Regions from separate parts of the Homo sapiens genome. Here region 2 is linked to region 1. A link means that fine-mapping ties the variant in region 1 to the expression of a gene that starts in the linked region. Tissue or cell type: sigmoid colon. Region 1 holds a variant in brackets; the other region holds the start of a gene. All regions are shown on one strand. Distances are from middle to middle.

The links. PIP is the estimated chance that this variant, and not a neighbour inherited with it, causes the effect.
Region 2: NPR1 starts here. The variant in region 1 is fine-mapped to the expression of NPR1 in sigmoid colon (GTEx, PIP 0.97).

What each region holds. Positions count from the first base shown.
Region 1 is chr1:153,744,928-153,747,427 of GRCh38, forward strand. INTS3 (integrator complex subunit 3) reads left to right here. Exons shown (of 30, transcript NM_023015.5): 4 at 2,030-2,143; 5 at 2,352-2,436. Among named protein-coding and RNA genes, the nearest start is that of INTS3, 18 kb to the left of the region's middle. RefSeq lists enhancers at 1-587, 588-1,327. The variant G/A (reference allele first, on the strand shown) is at 1,343.
Region 2 is chr1:153,677,442-153,680,048 of GRCh38, forward strand. It overlaps NPR1 (natriuretic peptide receptor 1), which reads left to right and starts at 1,247. Exons shown (of 22, transcript NM_000906.4): 1 at 1,247-2,388. The coding sequence starts at 1,668. RefSeq lists enhancers at 484-1,465, 1,466-2,446 and a silencer at 1,988-2,047.

The DNA.
Region 1 (2,500 bases):
TGGATTTGAATCCTGGTTCTTCCTCTAATCTCTTATGTCATCTGGGGCAAATAACTTTTAAGCTCTCCATGCCTATTTCCTCATCTGTAAAAATAATTATAATAAGTAGTACTATTTTAAAAGGTTGTTATGTATATCAAATGCAGTAATATATACATATATATATATTATTGTTGTTGATGCCATCCTTGCTGTATTATTGCTTGCTATAGTATAACAACATCCTTGCTGTACTTTTTTTTTTTTTTTGAGACAGGGTGTCTCTGTCACCCAGGCTGGAGTGCAGTGGTACGATCTTGGCTAACTGCAACCTCCACCTCCTGGGTTCAAGTGATCCTCCCGCCTCAGCCTCCCTTGTAGTTGGGACTACAGGCACGTGCCACCACACGTAGCTAATTTTTGTATTTTTAGTAGAGATGGAGTTTCACCATGTTGGCCAGGGTGGTCTCGAACTCCTGACCTCAGATGATCCACACGCCTCGGCCTCCCAAATAGTGCTGGGATTACAAGCATGAGCCACCATACCCGGCCCTTGCTATACTATATGATTATTATTTTTGATGCCATCCTTGCTACTGGTCTTCAGAGGTTGTGGGAAGCTACCTGCCTAGTTTCTACTCTTTCTGATGAGATCCTGACGGGATAGAACTCAGCAGGCTAAGGAAGTTGCTAATGAGGCCCCCTAAGGTATTCCTCCAGGAGTCTGGTCTCACAATAGAGACAGAGTGAAAAAAAAAAAAAAACTAAGGGGGGAAGGGAAGCAATAATCTCACAGAAGAAATTAGCATGCCCTCCCTTACCTCCCCCAGGATTTGGTATGCTAAAGCACCTTTCCTTTTTCAATAAGTGGCAGAAGGAAAGGGCATCACAGAGAAAAGAATAAAGATATTTAGTTCAGCTGGGTATGGTTGCTCATGCCTGTAATTCCAGCTACTGAGGAGGCCGAGGTGGGAGAATCACTTGAGGCCAAGAGTTTCAGCCTAGGGAACATAGTGAGACCTTGTCTCTAGAAAAAACTGTTTTAAAAATTATCTGGGCGTGGTGGTGCATGCCTGTAGTACCAGCTACGCAGAAGTTCGAAGCTGCAATGAGCTATGATCATGCCACTGCACTCCAGCCCAGGCAACAAAGTAAGACCCCAAGTATAAAAAAACTAAAAATTCAAAAAAATATCAGTTTTGGTTCTGTCCTTAACTGTCTAGGGCCCTGCCCTGGATCTTCTTCCCTTACTACTCCCTTTGCTGTATCTGACTGGGTCAGTACTGGTCTAAAAACCTCTTTGGGATCCTTTTTGGCTTGTTCAACCAAACCCATTTTGCAGTGACCTTTTACTGACTGGCAG[G/A]TGAAAAGCAGATGGCCTCCACCTGGTTTTGCTCAGCCTGTGGCATCAAACAGTATGACACTTCCTAAGATGGGAAGTGGGGGGGACAGGGATAGTACTAGGAGCCTTGCCCAGCAGGCTTTTCTCTCCCCTGCCCCCGAGACAGAGTTTCGCTCCGTCGCCCAGGCTAGACCCAGGCTAGAGTGCAGTGGCGCGATCTCCGCTCACTGCAAACTCCGCCTCCCGGGCTCACACCATTCTCCTGCCTCAGCCTCCCGAGCAGCAGGGACTACAGGTGCCCGCCACCGTGCCCGGCTAATTTTTTTGTATTTTTAGTAGAGACGGGGTTTCACCGTGTTAGCCAGGATGGTCTCGATCTCCTGACCTCGTGATCCACCCGCCTTGGCCTCCCAAAGTGCTGGGATTACAGGCGTGAGCCACTGCACCTGGCTGCCCAGCAGGCTTTTCTGCCTCATTAAAGGATAACCAGTACCTTTTCCCCACTCTGTGTGACAGAACAAGGGATAGGTTGGGAATGCAGGACCCCTGTGGAAAGAAAGTGTCCAGAATGAAAAGTATTTCATTGCTACTCGGTGTCTTATTGGTGTTATTTAAGTTTAAGGGATTAGAGGGCAAGGGGTCCACTGTGGGTGGGGTGAGGACCTTATCCTCAGCTTGCTGGCTGATCACAAACTTTACTTCTCACAGTGTTACCGGGACTTAGCTCTGGTGAGTCGTGATGGCATGAATATTGTCCTGAATAAAATCAACCAGATACTTATGGAGAAGTACCTGAAGCTGCAGGATACCTGCCGTACTCAGGTAAGGCCAGAAAGAAAAGACAAGATCCAGCTCAAAGAGAGAGGATGGATCTTCTCTCTGTCAGGAACGGGAAAGAGGAATCAGGGCTAACACACCCCTATCATTGTGTGTCTAAATTGTAATGTGCTCCTTTCAGTTGTAATTGAATTAGCTCCCTTCTCAAACTCACAGTTCCTGCTCTTCATCTGTTTTTCCCTCTTTCCTTTAGTTGGTGTGGTTGGTACGGGAACTGGTGAAGAGTGGGGTTCTGGGAGCCGATGGTGTTTGTATGACGTTTATGAAGCAGATTGCAGGTGAGTTTGATGGCAGGAGCATAAAGAAGAAAGGAGGAGAGCCCAGAGACTACATAGAGACAAT
Region 2 (2,607 bases), 67 kb before region 1:
TAAGAATATTCAAGTCTCCTAAAATTCCATATATAGGAAATGTACTTCAACATTCTGCTCTGTCTACACAGAATACCTTTCTCATCCTTCCATCCTCTTGAATTATTTCTTTTTTGGAGATTTTCTGGCCCCAATCCAAGCAGAATGAATAGCCCTCATCTGAGTCCTTTAGCAATTTATCCATGTCTCCCCTGTAGTGCTTAATGCATGTTGCATTACGGTTATTTGTCCCAAATGGAGCTCCTCAAAGGCACGGACTATATATATTCATCTTTATGCCCTCGGCACCTAGTGGGTGCTTAATGCACCGAAGGTTCTCTGGAAATGTTTGCTGACCTGAAGTTTGGTGATCTTATGTCCTGCTTAGGCGCAGCGTTGGAGAGGTTGGCGCTGCAATGCCGTCAATAACCCCCGATGACCATTAGAGGGCACACTGATTCCACAGCAGTCTGCACCGGGGGCCCAGCTGTCAAGTGCTCCAAAACCCACTCCCCAATTTACGCCTCCAGTGGTCATCTCCCACAGCCTTCATTTTAACAACCCTCAACACAAAACAGTCATTTTCTTGGGGCGTCCCTGAGGTGTGAACCTCCTCCCTCCCAGACACCCACCCACTCTCCCCATCTTCCTACAATTTGGGCGCTAAAGATTTAATTCCTCTCTGACACCAGATCATTTTTTCACAGCTAATCTGCACAGTCTGGAAGGTGGCAGGGAGGGAAAGAGAGGGAGATCATAGAAGGAATGGGTAACAAGCACTCTGGGCTCACCTTCAACTTTAACGGACTTTCCAGAAACCCGTCACCTTCCACCCCACACCCAAACACACACATCCACGCACTCACTCAGTTTCCTGCCAGGATCCCAAACCAGCACACCTTTCCCTCTTCCCCCGAGGAGACCAGGTAGGAGGCGAGGGAAAAGGTGGGGCGCAAGTGGGCCCCGGTTGCTTCCACACACACCCTCCGTTCAGCCGTCCTTTCCATCCCGGCGAGGGCGCACCTTCAGAGGGTCCTGTCCTCCAAAGAGGTAGGCGTGGGGCGGCCGAGACCGGGGAAGATGGTCCACGGGGAAGCGCGCGGGCTGGGCGGCGGGGAGGAAGGAGTTAAAGATCCTGGATTGGCTCTTCTGTCACTGAGTCTGGGAGGGGAAGCGGCTGGGAGGGAGGGTTCGGAGCTTGGCTCGGGTCCTCCACGGTTCCCTCCGGATAGCCGGAGACTTGGGCCGGCCGGACGCCCCTTCTGGCACACTCCCTGGGGCAGGCGCTCACGCACGCTACAAACACACACTCCTCTTTCCTCCCTCGCGCGCCCTCTCTCATCCTTCTTCACGAAGCGCTCACTCGCACCCTTTCTCTCTCTCTCTCTCTCTCTCTAACACGCACGCACACTCCCAGTTGTTCACACTCGGGTCCTCTCCAGCCCGACGTTCTCCTGGCACCCACCTGCTCCGCGGCGCCCTGCGCGCCCCCCTCGGTCGCGCCCCTTGCGCTCTCGGCCCAGACCGTCGCAGCTACAGGGGGCCTCGAGCCCCGGGGTGAGCGTCCCCGTCCCGCTCCTGCTCCTTCCCATAGGGACGCGCCTGATGCCTGGGACCGGCCGCTGAGCCCAAGGGGACCGAGGAGGCCATGGTAGGAGCGCTCGCCTGCTGCGGTGCCCGCTGAGGCCATGCCGGGGCCCCGGCGCCCCGCTGGCTCCCGCCTGCGCCTGCTCCTGCTCCTGCTGCTGCCGCCGCTGCTGCTGCTGCTCCGGGGCAGCCACGCGGGCAACCTGACGGTAGCCGTGGTACTGCCGCTGGCCAATACCTCGTACCCCTGGTCGTGGGCGCGCGTGGGACCCGCCGTGGAGCTGGCCCTGGCCCAGGTGAAGGCGCGCCCCGACTTGCTGCCGGGCTGGACGGTCCGCACGGTGCTGGGCAGCAGCGAAAACGCGCTGGGCGTCTGCTCCGACACCGCAGCGCCCCTGGCCGCGGTGGACCTCAAGTGGGAGCACAACCCCGCTGTGTTCCTGGGCCCCGGCTGCGTGTACGCCGCCGCCCCAGTGGGGCGCTTCACCGCGCACTGGCGGGTCCCGCTGCTGACCGCCGGCGCCCCGGCGCTGGGCTTCGGTGTCAAGGACGAGTATGCGCTGACCACCCGCGCGGGGCCCAGCTACGCCAAGCTGGGGGACTTCGTGGCGGCGCTGCACCGACGGCTGGGCTGGGAGCGCCAAGCGCTCATGCTCTACGCCTACCGGCCGGGTGACGAAGAGCACTGCTTCTTCCTCGTGGAGGGGCTGTTCATGCGGGTCCGCGACCGCCTCAATATTACGGTGGACCACCTGGAGTTCGCCGAGGACGACCTCAGCCACTACACCAGGCTGCTGCGGACCATGCCGCGCAAAGGCCGAGGTGAGACGCTGGCACACCCCGTCCCGCCGCTTAGCCGCAGGGCCTCCCCTCTGACCTGCCGGAGGCATCGGGACTTTCTCTCTCATCTGGGGGCACTCTTCTTTCTCCTCGCCGTTCTTCATTCTACTTTCAGCTCCCTGGCCCTTTCTACAGCTGAGTTTCTATTTCCCTCTCTTCTTCCGCCACCCCCACCACGTCTCTATCCTCTCATCTCCCCGA